4 linked regions of the Homo sapiens genome follow. The protein of the gene in region 2 interacts with the protein of the main gene of each other region in a biochemical or structural test. Each region holds a gene or a part of one and is shown on either strand. Other genes may lie near its edges.

Evidence for each region. The genes of interacting proteins can lie anywhere in the genome.
Region 1: the proteins of SMAD2 (region 2) and NUP214 form a complex in vitro, tested with the Homo sapiens proteins (one study listed by BioGRID).
Region 3: the proteins of SMAD2 (region 2) and DAB2 form a complex in vitro, tested with the Homo sapiens proteins (one study listed by BioGRID).
Region 4: of the proteins of SMAD2 (region 2) and TGFBR1, one has a biochemical effect on the other in vitro, tested with the Homo sapiens proteins (one study listed by BioGRID).

What each region holds. Positions count from the first base shown.
Region 1 is NC_000009.12:131,131,436-131,136,071, reverse strand, and holds part of NUP214 (nuclear pore complex protein Nup214), read right to left. Parts: intron 3,477-4,636; coding exon 3,413-3,476; intron 2,967-3,412; coding exon 2,863-2,966; intron 1,175-2,862; coding exon 1,068-1,174; intron 133-1,067; coding exon 66-132; intron 1-65. UniProt on the Homo sapiens protein: Part of the nuclear pore complex. Has a critical role in nucleocytoplasmic transport.
Region 2 is NC_000018.10:47,862,659-47,868,248, forward strand, and holds part of SMAD2 (mothers against decapentaplegic homolog 2), read right to left. Parts: intron 2,476-5,590; coding exon 2,401-2,475; intron 1,444-2,400; coding exon of another isoform or gene 1,382-1,443; exon of another isoform or gene 1-1,381. UniProt on the Homo sapiens protein: Receptor-regulated SMAD (R-SMAD) that is an intracellular signal transducer and transcriptional modulator activated by TGF-beta (transforming growth factor) and activin type 1 receptor kinases.
Region 3 is NC_000005.10:39,379,495-39,384,130, forward strand, and holds part of DAB2 (disabled homolog 2), read right to left. Parts: intron 3,778-4,636; coding exon 3,124-3,777; intron 2,123-3,123; coding exon 1,960-2,122; intron 1-1,959. UniProt on the Homo sapiens protein: Adapter protein that functions as a clathrin-associated sorting protein (CLASP) required for clathrin-mediated endocytosis of selected cargo proteins.
Region 4 is NC_000009.12:99,151,753-99,155,178, reverse strand, and holds the end of TGFBR1 (TGF-beta receptor type-1 isoform 1 precursor), read right to left. Parts: 3' UTR 987-3,426; downstream 1-986. UniProt on the Homo sapiens protein: Transmembrane serine/threonine kinase forming with the TGF-beta type II serine/threonine kinase receptor, TGFBR2, the non-promiscuous receptor for the TGF-beta cytokines TGFB1, TGFB2 and TGFB3.

The DNA.
Region 1 (4,636 bases), on a different chromosome or scaffold from region 2:
GAGACTGTCTCAAAATAATAATTTAAAAAAGAAAGCACCACAGAAGTGACAAAAAAGAGATTTACCTGATCACTTTGTCGAGCAAGGATACTAACTTCTGTTGAAGCCGCAGATGCTGCCAGCACTAAATCCCTTAAAGAATAAAACCAGAGACCATTACGTTCAAATACAGCAATAGTTCTAAGCTAACCTGGGTCTGCAGGTAACACCTGTGAGGGCTGCCTCCACATGTCAAAGAGAGAGTAAGGTTTTTTATCTGGTTGAACAAAGGTGGGAAGATTCTAGATGTAAAGCTGAACTTTTTAGTTTCTGTGAGAAAGCCCTGTAGAATCAGCTCAGTGCCTACCTACATGAAGACAAAGGAAAGACACAACAGAATCAAGTCACAGTTCACAATCAATATGCCATCCAAAGGCAGAATAATGTAGCTAGAGGGATGGAAGCTTTGCTTTGAGTAATCTCCATTCCAAAGGGCAACTCTGCTCTCAGGAAACTTTTAATATATTCCTTGAATATCAATATTTTCGTAAGTCATCACTAGGGGTTATTGAGAAAATTAGATTTTTGAAATTAGTATGTATTTAAGATAAATAATTCAAGATTGGGGAAACAGAAATAATAGAAAGACATTATCAAGAATCAGCTGAAAATATGTTCAAGGCATCTCAGCCTCCATTTTCCTCTGTAATGGAAAAGATTTCAGGCTGGGTGCGGTAGCTCACACCTGTAATCTCAGTACTTTGGGAAGCCAGTCTGAGCAACATAGCAAGATCCCATCTCTAAAAACAAAAAACAAAAACCAAAAAACTTATTTAAAAATAAGCCAGGTGTGGTGGCATGTGCTTGTAGTCCCATCTGGGAGGCTGAGGTGGAAGGATCACTTGAGCCTGGGAGTTCCAGGCTTCTGTGAGCTACAATCGTGCCACTGCACTCCAGCCTGGGTAATGGAGTGAGACCCTGCCAATCCATCAATCAATCAATCAGAAAAGATTTCAACATGGGACAAGGTGACTCAGGTGTGATCTTCCAGTGAGAGCAGGAATGCCCTGTCCAGACTCTCTGCTCACCATTCCTCAATGTAACTGAGGTAGTAATGATGCTGTCTCTCCGTGCAGCTGCCATAACAGGGCTCCATAAAGTTCACAAATATCTCTGGGTGCTTTTCTTCTTTTTTCTACAATGAACAAAGCAAGAAAAAAAATTCTCATGTGCAATTTTTCTCAGATCCCACAGCAAAAGAATCTCAAATAATAAATCATTTAAAGTTATATGAGAATATTTACTCAAAGTCCAGATATACGGACATGGTATAAAGGCAGCACTTAGTACAAGGAGTACAAACATTGGCCATCAACCGAACTGCATTTAAACTCTGTTCTGCCACTTTCTGCCCACGAGACATGCAGATTTTTCAACCTTCCTGATACTTAGTGTTCTCATGTGTATACTAGACCTACTAAGCCTACTTCAGAGGCTACTGTAAAGTGTAAAATGAAATGATACATACAAAACTTCCAGCCCAGTACATGAAACATAAGTAGCAGTTAATAAATACTAGTGTTAATATTATCCCCTAGAATAGAAAAAACCTCTAATCTTAAAATAAGGCATCTAGATAAACATATTTCAAAAACTCAACCTTATTAGAAATCCAAAAGAGTTAAAAACAAGACATCTTTTTCAAGTATCAAATTGGCCTCCCTTGACACACAATCTCAAACACATACCAGTCATCATCTATCCCTAACACGGCTTTATTTTCTCCATCACTCTTATCAGTCCTTGATCTCACATTTAGTATTGACTATCCCATTAAAATGTAAGACCAGCCAGGTGTGGTGGCTCAAACCTGTAATCCTAGTGCTCTGAGAGATGAGGCGGGAGAACTGCTTAAAGCCAGGAGTCCGAGACCAGCGTGGGCAACAAAGCAAGACCCTACCTCTGCGAAAAATTTAAAAACAGCTGGCTGTGTTGGTGCATGCCTGTGGTCCCAACTACTCGGGAGGCTGAGGCAGGAGGATGGCTTAAGCCCAAGAATTTGAGGCTGTAGTGAGCTGTGATCGCACCACTACATGCCAGCCTGGGCAACAGAGTGAGATTCTGTCTCTAAAAAATAAATAAAAATTAACAACAACAACAAACTTAAAACCATAAAAGCAAGCCCATCACCTTGATCACTGCTATATACTCAGCTTTAAAGCAGTGCCTAGCACACTGTTGGCATTAAATATTCGAGAGCAAATGAAATAATTTTAAAAATCAAGATACTGTCTTGCTTTTCTAAAATTTATCGAGTTAACCAAGACTCATAGTTTATAGCTTAAGCAAAATCATTTTTTTTTTAACCTCATAACAGTAGAACATGCTGTGGACACTCCAATTTTAGACCCCTGGCCCATGGTGCAGCATGGAAACCTTATACCTGAAGTTGCATAATCACTGCCAGTAAGTAAAAGAACCTGAAATCAGGCCAGGTGCGGTGACGCACACCTGTAATCCCAGCACTTTGAGAAGCCTAGGTGGGCAGATCACTTGAGCTCAGGAGTTCAAGACCAGCCTGGGCAACATGGTGAAACTCCATCTCTACCAAAAAAAAAAAATTAGCCAGGCATAGTGGTGTGCACCTGTAGTACCAGCTACTCAGAAGGCTAAGGTGGGAGGATCACTTGAGTCCAGGAGGTCCAGGCTTCAGTGAGGTGAGATCGCATCACTGCACTCTAGCCTGGGCGACAGAGTGAGATCTTGTCTCAAAAAAAAAAAAAAAAAACACAAACACAAAAAAACCCCTTGAAATCAAAGCCTCCAGCTTTATTAGAAGACTTCTCTAATTCTCAAACAATGAAATTTCTTCCACAGGCATACCGGTAGTAGAGCCATCACCACATCTGGAGACGTTTCCAGGGTCCCATCTGCAGCAGCATACACTATGGCGAAGACGTAGGTACCAATCCACAGCACATCCAGAACTGAAAGACACATCTTAATCAGTAGCTCATAAAAATGACAGCAACCAGATACAAGAAAAAGCAGCTTATGTTTGGAATAGCCACTATGGATAAAAAAAAAATCAAAGGCCCTGATTTCATTGACTAAATATAATGCACAGGTACAATGACCCAAGAAGCCCAAACTCATCCCCAAATGGTAATTTTTCTGCTGGATTATAATCAGGGCAAATTATGAAGAATTGTAATAAAAAGTCGGGATCCATTTCATGTCATTTATCGTGAAACACAGATGTCACCCAGAGGGCCATAATTTACACTGACTTAATTAGCTGTTTGAAATAGTGACATTATTCATAAAGCAAACACCAATACCTCACTGAGCAGGTACATTACATGATTTTGAATTTCTGTAATATACATAACATGTCATTAGAGGTCAGCCCAATAAGAAAAGCAGTTGTTACCTCTGACAGGATGATCTGACTCATAAAACGGAGGACAAGGAATGACTTTTTTTTCCTGCAAAGTCTGAAAGAGATTTGGAGGGGAAAATAAAGTATCAAATGAAACAAATCCTAAACCAATCAAACTGTCAAATCTAATCTATTCCTTAGATGCTACCTGTTCCATCTCCTTGGCCGGGAGAGACTGAAGAAACAGAATAGTGCTATCTACTTCCAGGACTTCATCCTACAGAAACCCATGAACGTGGCTGGGTGTGGTGACTCATGCCTGTAATCTCAACACTTTGGGAGGCCGAGGCAGGTGGATCACCTGAGGTCAGGAGTTCGAGACTAGCCTGGCCAACATGGCGAAACCCCGTCTCTACTAAAAATACATAGCTGGGTGTGGTGGCGGGTGCCGTAATCCCAGCTACTCGGGAGGCTGAGGCAGGAGAACTGCTTGAACCCAGGAGGCATAGGTTGCGGTGAGCTGAAATCACGTCATTGCACTCCAGCCTGGGTGACAAAAGCAAAACTTGGTCTCCAAAAAAAAAAAAAAAAGAAAGAAAAGAAAAGAAACGCATGAACGCATGAACATGTTCAGATATAGGTAATGAGAGTAGTCAATGCAACACCATTTGCAGCAGCAACGCCACTAGCACTGATGCAGACAATCATCAATAGTGGAATAAGGCTGGGCGAGGTGGCTCATGTCTGTAATCCCAGCACTTTGGAAGGCCAAGGTGGGCACACTGCTTGAGCCCAGGAGTTTGAGACCAGCCTGGGCAACATGGCAAAACCCTATCTCTACAAAAAATACAAAAATTAGCTGTGCATGGTGGCAAGTGCCTGTAGTCTCAGCTACCCGGGAGGCTGAAGTGGAAGGATCACCTGAGCCCAGGAGGCTGAGGCTGCAGTGAACCATTACGTTATCACACCATTGCACCCCAGCCTGGGCAACAGAGCAAGACCATCTCTCAAAAAAAAATAATAATAAATAAATAAAAAATTAAGGCAAACAGCAAAGCAAGAAAATTTAAAAAATTGCATTATCTTTTTACAGGTTAGTGTCCTAAAAGATTATGTACCAAATTTCAGGTAACTTTTGGTAATAACAAATAAGAAACATAACCTTAACCTTAAACCTATACCACCTACATTCACCACTCTGCTCCCCTCCTCGCCAGAGAACAGTCTTGAGGAGGAAGGCACAAGAAAGGCCTTAGCACCACCTGTGAATCCCTC
Region 2 (5,590 bases):
GGAGGTTAGCACCTCATTTTATCTTCTGGGACACAGGCAGATTAAAAAACCCTTTAAGTCTCTTTGTGTATCTTGGACCAAGCACAGTGTATGTAGAAGATACAAAACTGAATTGTGAGTTATGAAATCCACATCTTATGATCTATTATATTCTATTTCTCTATATACCTGTTTGAACAAATATGTTCATAAAAATCATGACTTGAAAAGGGACTGATTATACAATACTACAAAGGTTAATCGAACTTATAAATTTCTTACGATGTCCAGCCTGATCTCTAATATCCACTATAAAGGAAGAATAAAGTCTTGACCAGCAAAATCTAAATCAAAAAAAAAAAGAAAAAAGTAACAAGTGCTTGTTCGTACACTTACTTATTATGCCTAATTTATCCTCTGGTTGCCCTTTTAAAAAATTTCAATTCATTATTTTTAACAGCAGGTTATGAAAGATGAATTTAATTATGTCCTTCCTTCTGGAAGGTATGAACCAGAGTTAGAGAGGTGGCCAACTTTGTTCTAAATTGGAGCCCTGCATCAGTCAGAATTGTTTCTTGCCATGGCCCCAAGAGAGAAACTGATATTGGGTAAGAGGCTGGCAGCCAAACTAACTGTTGGCATCTCATGAATCACATATTCCCATTGCCATACAGTAATTTTTAAACCTGTCATTCAGAAAGCCAGTAACACTGCTCCACTGAAACAGAAATATTAGGTTGGGTTCAAAGTTAGCCCCAACACTGCAATTATTTTAGCTGGCTGATTCAGCTTATTCTCCACTTTTGTACTTTGATTCATTTATCATACATAACGAATACTTGTATTATTGCTCCTCCTGTGTTTCAGTTATATTGCTGAATAGGTGTCTGTGCACTAAATTAGAATCCCTGCAGCCTTTTTTTTCTGGCTTATTTCACTTAACATACTGCTTTCAAGGTCCATCCATGTTGCCACACGTCATGCTATACTGTCATTCCTTTACATGGTTGAATAATTCCATTGCAGAAACATACCTCATTTTATTCATCCATTCATCATTTGATGGACATCTGAGTTGTTTCTAACTTTGAATATTAAGAATAATGCCTGCATAAATGGTCATGTACAAGTTTTTGAGTAGACATGTTTTCAGTTCACTTGGATACATAGCTGGCCACAATATGTTAACTCTGTATTTAACTTTTTGAGGAACAGGAAACTTTTCCAAAGTGTTGAACCATTTAACATTCCTACTAGCGATATATGAGGACTCCAATTTCTCCACATCCTCACCAACATTTGTTATTGTCCTTTTTTGATTATAGCATCTAGTAGGTGTGAGGTAGTATCTCACTGTGGTTTATGACGTTCAGTATCTTTTCCCATCATTCACTTTTAAATGTCACAGTAACAGCTGTCCATCACAGGCAAAAAAGAATATTATTGCTTCAAGAAGAGTGTCATCTAATTTTAGTAAAACATATGTGGAAAGTCAAATATTATTTGCATTAAGATGTATAACACGTTATTTCCAACGTTCATTAGATTATCTACCTTTCTTAGTTATCTGGTACTCCTAAACACCCAAATGTATGATTAGCTACAGCAGAAACTTCTTTACCTGGGAGTCCAAAAAAACGGATTTAAACAAGAGAATTATTGTAACCCCTCCCTCCCCCACCAATGTTAATCCACTTAAAAATAATTTAGATTATCATAACCAAGAATGCATTAGTGTTAAGATGTGGAGAAAGACTGATGGTATAATTTGTCAGGTTGTGATATTAAGGTGTCCAACAGTTAAGATACAGACAGGTAAAATGAATCAAACTGGACAATTACAATGACATCAAAGTGATTTCACTGGTAGTTTATTAGTTCTGCTGAGTTATACATTTTATTACGTAAGACGTGATTTAAAGCTTTAATTTTTTTCTTCATCACTTTTTGGAGTTGATAGCTAAGCATAAGAAATTAATCTACTATAATTCAAAACTCACTATTAGGTTAAAAAAGCAGTGAAAAGCTGATCCCCATCCTTCACCCCCAAATTCCTCTGAAAATCTGTTATTTGAGTAATTATGGTTTTTTATCACAGAGAGATACTTAGTCATAGGGTTACTAAAATTTTCAACAGAAGCAAATACTTAAAAAGAAATAAAAGTATGTGCATGTTTTCAAATTTTCATTTACTCTAATAAAAAATAACAATTATTCTGCAGAGTAGCATACGTTATAATTTTTCAGTGACAACATGGACCTCTTTGGTAGTTCAGATATGTTAAATCAAGATAGAAGATCATCTTTTTTGGTATGCGTCTCAACTTCTCTAAATTTAAGAGTAACATCTTTTGTGAATTTCAAACAATACAAGAAATGTATATCTAATAACTGAGGAATTTTCAAAGACATTTTTTTTACCTGTGTCCATACTTTGATTCAACTGTTGGTCACTTGTTTCTCCATCTTCACTGATATATCCAGGAGGTGGCGTTTCTACAAAAGTTTAAAACAAATCAAGCACAGCTGCAACATAATCTCACTACCTTTTCTCTCAGCTACCAGAGATAACCAATGAATCACTCCAAATAACAAATAATAATGTTATATAATATTATAAAAAGTAATATTGCATACTGAGGGTGTATAATTCAGGATCTTGTCCAAATTTTGCAGTGAATCCTTAACATCCACTTTTAATAAAATCCTACTCTCTGGACATACACATTATGTACGTATCTTGCTCATTCCTATATGTACATATTCTGGGGCAAGAGCCAAAAACGTAACTTTAAAAATGCCTCAGATCTGAATCAGTAGGCTGCAAAACCATCAGTAACTACAATTTTTTGTTGTTGTTGTTTAATCTAATGAACATCGTTATTTTATGAGTACTTAGAAAATTAAAAAACACACAAGATTTTGGATTATAAAAGTATTAAATAATACAGGCTTACAACTTACACTAAGTTCTATAGGGTAAAATATGGTAGAGTATGGTTCCGGATTGGTCCAGGCTGAATTCTATCTAAAAAGTGTGTTTCTCCAAGGATTCCTAACTGGTAAAGTCTAAGTGTTTGAAGCAGAAAATTCAATTCAAATATAGACTACTGTATAAAGAGGTAAAATGCTCCCTGAAAATAACCATTAGGATTCTAATATATTATTTCCAACATGTTGTCTGAATAAAACACTTATGTTCAGAAAGGTATCTGAATAGCTGAATAAACTGCATGTAAAATAAAAACATGTATACAATTTAATCAACTGTAATTCCAGGGAGGAAAAATAAGTTCAGAAGACTTTCATCAGTTTTACATTTACACTGAACAGTTTTGAGCGATTCAAGATAACAAAGACACATATCCAAACAATTTTAAAATTATCAAAAGAACGAGGCCAGGCGCGGTGGCTTATGCCTGTAATCCCAGCACTTTGGGAGGCCGAGGCAGGCAGATCACCTGAGGTGGGGAGTTCGAGACCAGCCTGACAAACATGGAGAAACCCCATCTCTACTAAAAACACAAAATTAGCCGGGCATGGTGGTGCATCCCTATAATTCCAGTTACTAGGGAGGCTGAGGCAGGAGAATCATTTGAACCCAGGAGGTGGAGGCTGCGGTGAGCCGAGATCACACCATTGTACTCCAGCCTGGGCAACAAGAGCAAAACACCGTCTCAAAAAAAAAAAAAAAAAAAAAAAAAGAGGAAGAGAAGATACAGGTTAAGGGTCTCCTTCAATAACCTTTTACAATATCTATTCAATAAACTAACCACAAACTTTAAGTATCAAACTTTTCATTTAAGTGTCAGTACCCCCAAATTTTTAAAACAAAAATTCTAAGAATAAATTATCTTCATATACTCAAAGAACATAAAAATAAGGGTACATATTATGCATATTTTAAAAGTTAAAGCTAATAAAGTTAAACGGCGCTAAGCTTTTTGAGTTTAACCTGTATTTCAAAGATCTAATCAGAAAGAAATGCTGAACCTTAAAATACGTTATCTTACTGTGTTTATTTTTTCCATTATTGTAATAAATAATAAAGCTATTAGCATTTTTGAGAAAATGTTAAAATTTCTTTTAAGTGGAATAAAATGTGAACCCTTTGGTTTTGCTGTTGCTTGAAACCGGATAAAGCCCCACTGTCCAGAAAAGCAAATGGGTATAATCCACTTCTGATTTTCTACTTTATAAAATACTCAAATCTCAATAATTAAAGGAATAAAAAAGAAAGGAAAAATGAGCCCAAACATCTTCACAAGTGAAAGCCACTAAACATTCTGGTGAATAGCCTTCCAAATAATTACTGGATATGCGTGTTGTCCCTAAGACTGCATGTTTATACCTAAGGTTAGTATTGCTGGCTGAATAACAGTAATTCCCACACTAACGACTTAAAATGCCTCCCCTTCCCCACACCAACGTTCACACAACTCCACTCCCTTTTCTACCTAGCAATTGCCCTGTTTCATAGTCCCGGGTTTTCCCTCCTCCTAGTGTTATCATACTACATCCCACCCTCTCCCTCTCTTAACTTCAGTAAGTTTGTATTTCCTAGCAACCCATAAAGCAGCTTTAAATCCTCTTCTGGAATAAAACAGTAATCAAAGAAATATACATTAAAACAATCAAAAACCACTTCCCATTTGTAAAACCAGCTATTTAAAAAAAAAACTTATCTTTCTTAGTTATCTTTTCTTTTTTTTCTTCCTTACATTTAAAAAATTATCTTCAATGAATAAGCATTATTTCCATGATGGATACATGAAAGAAATAATTGTTTAAATGTACTAAAACTGTATTTTAAGAATTTTGTAAATGCTCTTAAGTTCCTTACATATTTTTAGTGTATAAAATAAGAGTGGAATAAAAGAATATTACAAAAGGAAGAAAGAAATCGAGACACTACAGCTTAATCCTCATCCTAACATCATGCTGTTTCTGCTAGGGAGAAAAATCAACCAAACAAAAAGGAAAACATACAAGAAAAGTAACAAAGTATTAGTTGTTCTCCAAAAAAAAAAAAAAGAAACCATAAAAAACGAAAAGGCCAGATATCATATCGTGGAGTATTACTGGATCACATAATACATCAGAACAAAATTTGAGAACCATGTAGCTGAATTCAATTTTCATCAGAAATTACTGAGATGCAGACGAAACATAATTAAAGGAGGTTTTCTGACGTTCGTGTTATAATATGTAAGTGTTGCTATGTCTATAGAACTAAGTATTATATTTCTTATAGAAATGTTATATTTCTGTTAAATATTACCAAGTTATCTAAGAAAAAGTGATCATTGGGTGGATATTCAGTTACATGTGTTTGGGGGGTACTTTTCTCCTACACCATTTGTTTTGCTTACATTCTGCATCTCGCTTAGCTTCAACAACTAAGACAAACTTACTAAGATCTTTTCTTTTCTGCTTCTCACAGTACTTTGATTAAAGTCACTGCAAAAGAAAATGAAATATAAAGTAAAACTCTTCTCCAAACAAAACTGTTTAATGTACTAGGCTTATACATTTCACAAAATAATCACCCAACGAATCCAATTTTTCTATTAAAAACTCAAAAGCATTTTTAAAAAAGTGAAACCACAAT
Region 3 (4,636 bases), on a different chromosome or scaffold from region 2:
TCAAGGCTTTCCCAGTATATACTTATACCAGTCTTCATTCCTACCCACCAAATCCCCACATTGTGTTTTAACACATTGAACACATTGAACACATTGACAAAGTAGGGGCAAGGAATAAGGAAAAAGGGGACATGGGTATAGAACATTAATTTTATTACCTTCTGAGGCTAGATTAAAATACAAGCAAGTTGAATCTGAGGGCTCAGCTTTCTACAATACCCTCTCCCCACCCCCCCAGTTCTCCAGGGGAGACAGTCCCCCAGCTGGGTCTAGCGGAAGCCAGACCTACAACCTTCCATGGTTTGGCTGAGGATCCCTGCTAGTGGACAGGGACTATACTGTAGAGCTCAGTTTGAGTCCCATGTCCAAACTTGGAACAATCATCAGTATTCTGCAGTTGTATACCCCAAGCCCTCAACAGGGGCACCTAGCCAAAAAGCTTCACTTCGTCTGAATAAATAAACAGTTATAGGGTCCAGCTGTATTTTCAGGCTGACTTGTTAAATATTGGCTGCAAAAATTCTTAAGGGCATTGATATCAGATAAAAAGCTCTGTGATGTGATCTCGCTGCAGACATTGCATTGCAAGCACTCTGGTCTTCTGTGAGGGAAGGGTACCAACCAGCTCCACTTGGGGGTGCAAGGAAAAGAGCAACGCAGAAAGGGGGAAGCCCCCAAGAGACATGAAGTCTTTAGAGAGAGCCTCTTGATGGGGTAAATGCGAGCAGAGACCTGGGACAAGCTGGCTTTTCATACCCTCACGGATTTCTGCCACTCAGCAGTTGAGTAACAGTCCTCCTCTGGCCACCCTATTCTAGATATGATTAAACAGATTTCTTGTAAAAGAACCAAACTATTTTCCTTTGTAGGAAAACAACAGAGACAGAGAGGAAAACAAAACAAGGATCCTGATGACTGACTGCAGGAGGCAGAGAAAGCCAGGATCCCTGGTCAGATTTTACCGAAGGAGAGGAGAGTCCTTCCTCGTCTACAGTCCTCCACCTCCCAAGCCAGAGTCCATTTGGAGTTTGTAGAGGTGCCAAGAGAAGAAAAATAGAGTCCATAGCAGGACAGCAAAAACTATTGTCAGGGTTTCTGAAAACTGTACCATGGAGTCTGAAAAGAACTATAGGCTATGGACTAAGAATAGCAAGGCCAGCCCTCAGTCAAGTGGACTTTCCCACTGTCCTACCACAGAGTGATCAGCGGCTCACACAAGCTAATGACACATTTAGGAATTAAGAGCGTCAATGCATACTAGCTGTCTGATAAAATTCCATCTCTTCCCTTATTTCTCTCTTTTTTCAACTTTGGCTTTCTAGGACTTATGTTCTAGCTTCAGTAAAACACTCAAGCTAGCCAAAATATTGGCAAGGAGCTCCTATGGCAGAAGTGCTCAGAGACTGATCAGGATGTGTGCCTGATCTACCCTTACCATACACCTAGGAACACAGCTGGGCCCAGAACCTAGGACTTTCACTCTATGACTTATTCTTGCTTCAGACTTAACTTACATCCTTCTTGGGCATATATTCCTTCTAAGAGGGCTATGTGTTGAAAGGACATAGGCCTTCGATCTATTATGGCAAAAGACATGGAAGACATGCATGTTGACAGACAAGCCTCTCTTATGTCAACCCTGTTTTGCTACTGAAGCTGGTCTGAGTTTAGAATCCCTTACAATTGTCTTTCAGGAAACCATGACCAGTTGGTTCAAGTAAGTACAATACTGAAAATGAATTTCTTGTCTCATGCTGCCTCGAGGAGCCAAATGTGAGTTACAAGTCAAGAATATCAAATGGATGTGGGGTTGTATAGTAGAAGTGGGAGAAGGGCTCCCTGGGATGCTCAAATCTTATGCTGTAAAACCCTCTGGGAGTATGAAATCTCTTCCGATGCATCATCATTTTATGAGCAAAAGCAAAAGAGTCATACTTAATTTTATCTCTAGGCACCTACCTAGACCCACCAGGGGCCCCACTGGGGCAGGAGCACTTGTTTTGAAGAGATCCAGAGGGTTGGGCTGCAGGGCTGTAGGTTGTCCTGTGGGTGACGCCTGGCCTGAAGGTTCTGAGACGGGAGGAGCAAAGATGTCTGATGCAAGCAAGTCATTGGCTGAAGACTGACAGGACAGGGAGGGAGGGAGAAGCCTTAGTTACTCACTAACAGTGAAATACAGCCTCATTTTGTCTCCTACCCTATACCCCAATTTGAGAGCCACAAAAAGGAAAACTTTTTTCTTGACAGATGAACAACAACAACTACTACTACAGAAAAAGAGTCCTCCAAAAAAAGACACAGATTCCTACAACGGACGGACTACTGAGTCTTAGTGTCTGACACTACCTAGGACTTGCAAAGTGAAATCTACTATATTCCTTTACACACTCACATTGGTCTGGTCTCATCGCTAAATGCTTGAAGTTGGGGGAGCAAGTGTGTAAAAGGGGCAACTACCAATAAGCATCCTAAATATTTTTGTTCATTCCATTGGATTTTAAGTCAGTCTACATAGAGATCATAGGGTCTTAATCCAGGCAAGCCTGTATATTCTTAGGAGAGGTAAAAAAAGACACCTATGGGAACTGCATTTTAAATTGCTCTTAAATAAAGCTGAGATCATAGTGGTAATAGTAAATACATAAGCTTAGAAAAAGCTTATGTATTTACTCAGTATTTAAAAGAGGAGATAAGCTCGAGAATTTTATACCACCACCATGGACACTGATGCAACATGATGGGTGTGCAGGGCATGTGTTAGTGTCAGGGAAGTACAAAGGGAATCACAAGAACTCTCACCCTCCCAACCCAGAACACGATGATCAAACTTACCAGAGGTATAGAAGCATAGCAGCATTAAAAATGGAAAAACTTGTGTTTAGTTTAATCATAAGTGACAAGACATGCACACGGAAAGCAGGGTGTGAAAAACACTGCTGAGAAGCTTAAAAACGGTGGCAGTTAGAGGAAAGTACTCCTGGAGAACCAAAGTGCCTTATCCCACCTTCTATTTCACAGCAACACAGGAAACTACGAGAGCAGCAGGAAAGAGAGCTTGCATCACACCACCCTTTGGTACCGAACATGCACTCTGCTAATGGATATGTGGAGAAGACAATTCACCTTAGCAGTCCTTCTGCCTCTTCCTGGTTTGGTACTTTGTGGAGGTGGGATAATGGCTATGGAGTCATGTGGTGAGGACTGGACAGAGCTTTCCAAGTCCTGCTTTACGCCATTCTGTATGGACAGTCCTTTGGGAGGGCTTCCCACAAAAGGGTTCGGGGAGGATTTGACAGAGAAGCCGTTCTGTTCTCTTTCAGATACCCCATTTTGAGTTCTCACTGCTGGCTGGGTTTGCGAACTTGAAAAGGGCCATGGGCCTGCCTGAGCTTCCTGTTTGCCAGTCCGGTTAGAGATCTGGTCAAATTGCTGACCAAAGTAGTCAACATCACCATTCAGGGGCCCATTACTCAGCGGAGTAGACGAGCTACTCGAATTCTCTTTCTTCTGATCTGGAGATTTGAGAGAATCAAACGAAGAAGGTGTCGATTGGTCTGGCTGTGTGAAAGGATCGTCACGGAAAGGATCAGGATTAGGGGTGGGAAAGAAGTTGAGATTGGCAGAAAAGGCATTTTCAGGCAAGAAGGATGCCTGAGGCGTTGGTCGAGGAAGAGAACAGGAGGTGATGCCGTTTGTTAAGAATGGATTTTCTCTTAAAGAATTCTGATTGGTGTCGATTTCAGAGTTTAGATCCACTAACAGGATATCTTTGCTTTCCTATCACATTTGGAAAGAAAAAAAAAGAAAGTGTTAGTCCATGTTGTGACTTCAAATGAGAAAATTACATAAGATGACTAGGATTATCAGAATTTCCATTTGAATTTGGTCTTGATAAATCGGTTGATCATTACCTCCTTCCATCAACCCCCGTAGTCCATTACTCCCTAGCTATAGACTAGGTCCTTTCTATTCCTCCCCAATATCATGCCCTTTTATTTAAGTCTCAACCTCATTAGGTGAAATCTTACTGTTGCTTACTTCATGTCTCTGCTCACCCTGGTTCACACATACAGACTGGCTTAATTCATTATGAGCATTGTTTCAATTTGTGACTTTGAAAGTCTTAAAGGGAATTGATTGTGAGTCACTATAAATGATTATCAAAGTATGTTGAGCTTGAAAGTAAGTGATTTCAGAAGCTTAGCTCAGCTTCCTACCTATACACATACAGTCCTCTCTATTGTACCCCCAGAGTCATGTAGGATCATCTCTCTAAATGAGAAAATTCATCGACTAATACATTCATATTTTATAGTTCTGGCTGTGATGAAATTTAAGATCAAATGCATTTCCCTAAAATCGGTCCAGTTCTTTCCTCTAGAGGTGGGAGAGAGGCTTTTCTTTTATATCACGGCCTTCAGGTATGTCTCTTAATATTTAAGGCTCTTGCTGAAGCTGATAGTCAAGTAGGATCTCATCCTCATCATCCCAGTCTCTCCTCTGGGCTTACCCTTTTTGTCTATGTCCTCTGAAAGAGACACTCAATACTGATCTAATTTAGTCAATCACACATTAAGATCTCCTATTTGTACATCTTTTCATAACATTGCTTAGAGTTGCCTGTGTTGTGACAGTA
Region 4 (3,426 bases), on a different chromosome or scaffold from region 2:
TGCTTCAGTGGTTACTCCAGGCTCTACAGCATGCATTTCAATTTATTACAATCATCTTCAAATTAGGACTAATTAATTCTAATAAGATACATCTTTGTCCCAATAGAGTTCCATTTCCTACCCACTCCTTTGTTATTAATATACACTGCACCTATATTGTAAACCCAACAGTATGGTGATGTAATTACTATATAGTCTTATGCTACTGAAAGATAACTTACATTTATTTTGGTAGGCAAATTATTTCCCCAAGATTCCCATTCTCTAGTTATTTAATCAAATACTAATCTTGGTACTGCAGTGAATGCACTTTGCAGGTAAAACTGAGGTTACTAAATAGGGTAATTATCCTGGATTATCCAGATGGCCCCCTGAGTAATCACATGGCCCCTTAAAAGCAGAAGAGGGAAGCAGAAGCATTAGAGAGATGCAGTGGAAGAGACAGTGGAGAGATGAGGCAGAAGGGGAGATCCGAGAAAAGTGCAAGGATGATTCAACCCATTGCTGCTGGTTTTGATGATGGAGGAGGGAACCACGAGCCAAAGAATTTGAGTGGCTTCTAGAAACTGACAACCACCCCTGGCCAACCTGTCTTACAACCATATGGAGCTGAATTCTGCCAACAACCTCAATGAGCTTGGAAGCCTATTCATCCGAGCCTCCAGAAAAGAATGTTGCCCAGCCAATGCCTTCATTTTGACCTTTTAAAATATGGAGCAGAGAACCATCTGAGCTATGCCTAGACTTCTGAATTATGGAATTCTGAGATCATAAATAGGTGTTGCTTTAAGCCAGGGCATTTGTAGTAATTTATGGCAGCTATACAATCATACAGTCTTTGCTAGTTGTACATATATCCACCATTTCTGGTGCTCTTCATTTCATCCTGTGGATTCAGGTTACCATCTGGTGTCATTTATTTTCTGTGTGAAGGATTTAGTATTTCTTGTAAGGCAGACGTCCATAGGCAACAAATTGTCTTAGTATTTGTCTGGGAATGTCTTTAATTTCACTTTTTTTCCAACTTTCAACAAAAGCTTCATATCCTGGTGATGTCTTTGTTATAAGGAAAAAAAAAAATCCCTAAATCCAGCCTTCAAATTGAAGTAACTATCTTTAATGTGAGAGCAATCCTATTCACAAAGCCCCTCCCCAGAGTCAATCAAGGGTTTGGGGACCACATCTCATCATTTTTCCAGTTCTCTTGTAAGCCAAGTTTTCACCCCCAGGAGACTAACAAATGTGCTGACCCAAAGGCAACAGAGATCACCTGTAGACAGGTCCATCATGCCCCAATGGAAGACCCACACCCCTAAGCATGTGGAGAAAAGCCCCCAGGCACAGAGACACACCTGCAGACAGGAGGGCACTCCCCGAACACGCTATAATATTGTAACTTGCACTAGGCAGGGTTAGAAAACTTCTAAAGACTCTTGTAACTCAAAGGTTCTAGTTGCCATCTACAGCAACTACATATGGCATGACTCATTCCAACGTATACACTTTATTTTAAAATATGCCACTGGCACTTGGGAAAAATGTAATTTATTTGCACTGCTTCCATTCTTCTACTGTAGTGTTAGGACTTAACATAAGCATCACTCTTCTATTTCCTATTTACATTCTTTTGGAATATTACTACAAATACAATATACAATTTAAAAAAACTTATGGGGAAACACAGCTTATGTTTTTTTCTCCTCTTTACAGGCTTCTCAGTATCATTCGACTTCAATGGAAATTTATATGGACATTTTCTGTACATATCTTAAAAGGCAGAGATTACACTGATAAAGCCTAAAGAATCCTGCACAAATACAATACAGAAAACAGAAAGTACAGACGATGTTATTTGGGGTACAAATATAAACAATACAGTACCATTTGAGTAACTGAGCAACATAATACCCATACTTTATAGAAATAAAACTGCAAACCTGGAGAATGCTCTGACAAATATTAAACATTATATACACAATGAGGTAAATGTACCTTGGTCTCTTGAGAGGTAATTTAAGTTTAAAGCAATTGACATTTTGAAGCATCTCCTTAACATATGAAGAAATATCAAACACCCTATTCCGTTGGCACAACGTGAAAAAGGGGTATCAAAACATGGTTCATGATATTCAGTTCACAAATCTTGTTAAAAAATAAAAACAAATTCACTGAAGTTCCTTTTAAGTTGTAATAAACAGGTTGAATGTTATTAACCATATTTTTAGAAGTTTACATTTACAAACAAGATTGCATAATGGGATTGAAAAGTTTAATGTACTGACAATCATCTTAATGTCCTAGAAGTCCAGCACTCTTGAGAGGGCCCATGGGTATTCCAGTAATCCAAAACAGAGACAAGAAGCTGCAGTACATGTCCAAAGATAATCCTTAGTATCTCAAAATATCTGAGCTGGCATTTTCTGCCAAAGTGTTAACAGAACCATTATTTGGAATCACTACCATTTGGAGCCAGAACACTGCCATGGTCAAGAAACAGTTGACTTACGATTCTTCCAGTGCAAGAATAAAAATAAGCTTTTGATGATGTGTCTAATGGGATAGTGATTTTGTTGTGCACTCTAACGATCTCTTTGCCATCTTGTTTTAATCTGACAGTTCTCAGACATAGAGAAAAAAGGTAACTCATGCATGTACTACAAAATCGCCAAGTGACCACTTACATTTTGTAATAAAACCTGAAATCTGGGATTCTTGATGGCCATGGCACTGTACACCAACTCAAGGCACTTCTTGAGCACTATCATTATTACAGCAGAATTACAGGCTCAGCTCTTCAGACCTTACCCTGTCTTATAGGCGATACAACTGGCCACTGTTTCTGGCACAACTCCACTGCCACAGGAGCCACCTTGCTGCCATCCCACTCCTCATCCATGGCTGAAGTCAAAGCAGGGGCATCCCAAGCCTCATCTGCTCAATCTCCAAACTTGGAGACCCCTCCCTTCCACCTCTAATGACTGAAGGAAATGGAAGTGGGTCCCACAACTTCCATCAGCCGTTTTACTCTAGGTCTCCAGAGCAGCCTTCAGTCAAACGGCTGTGGGGGAGGCAACGGTCTCTGCGTCAGGGACCAGCAAGCAGGAGAGCAGGTTCCAAGAAACAGCTGGAGACAGAAAGGATGGACCAGGGATGTCTATGCCTCACTAAGTCGTATTTCCCCCATCCCCATTTCTCCTGGCTACTGACAAAATGAATATGGACGCACAATTTACCAGAAGATGTTTTAGCCACGTTGAATCTTGGAAGGTGAGCATCCTAGGATGGGCAGTATAAACAACTGTGTTTTTAAATGACAAAATTATTACTCTAATCAAATTTATCTGCAGTTATCGACAGTAATCATGATCCATCCCACCTTTTAAGTTTCTTTCATTTTCAATATCAGCCAATTGTGGTTTATCAAAC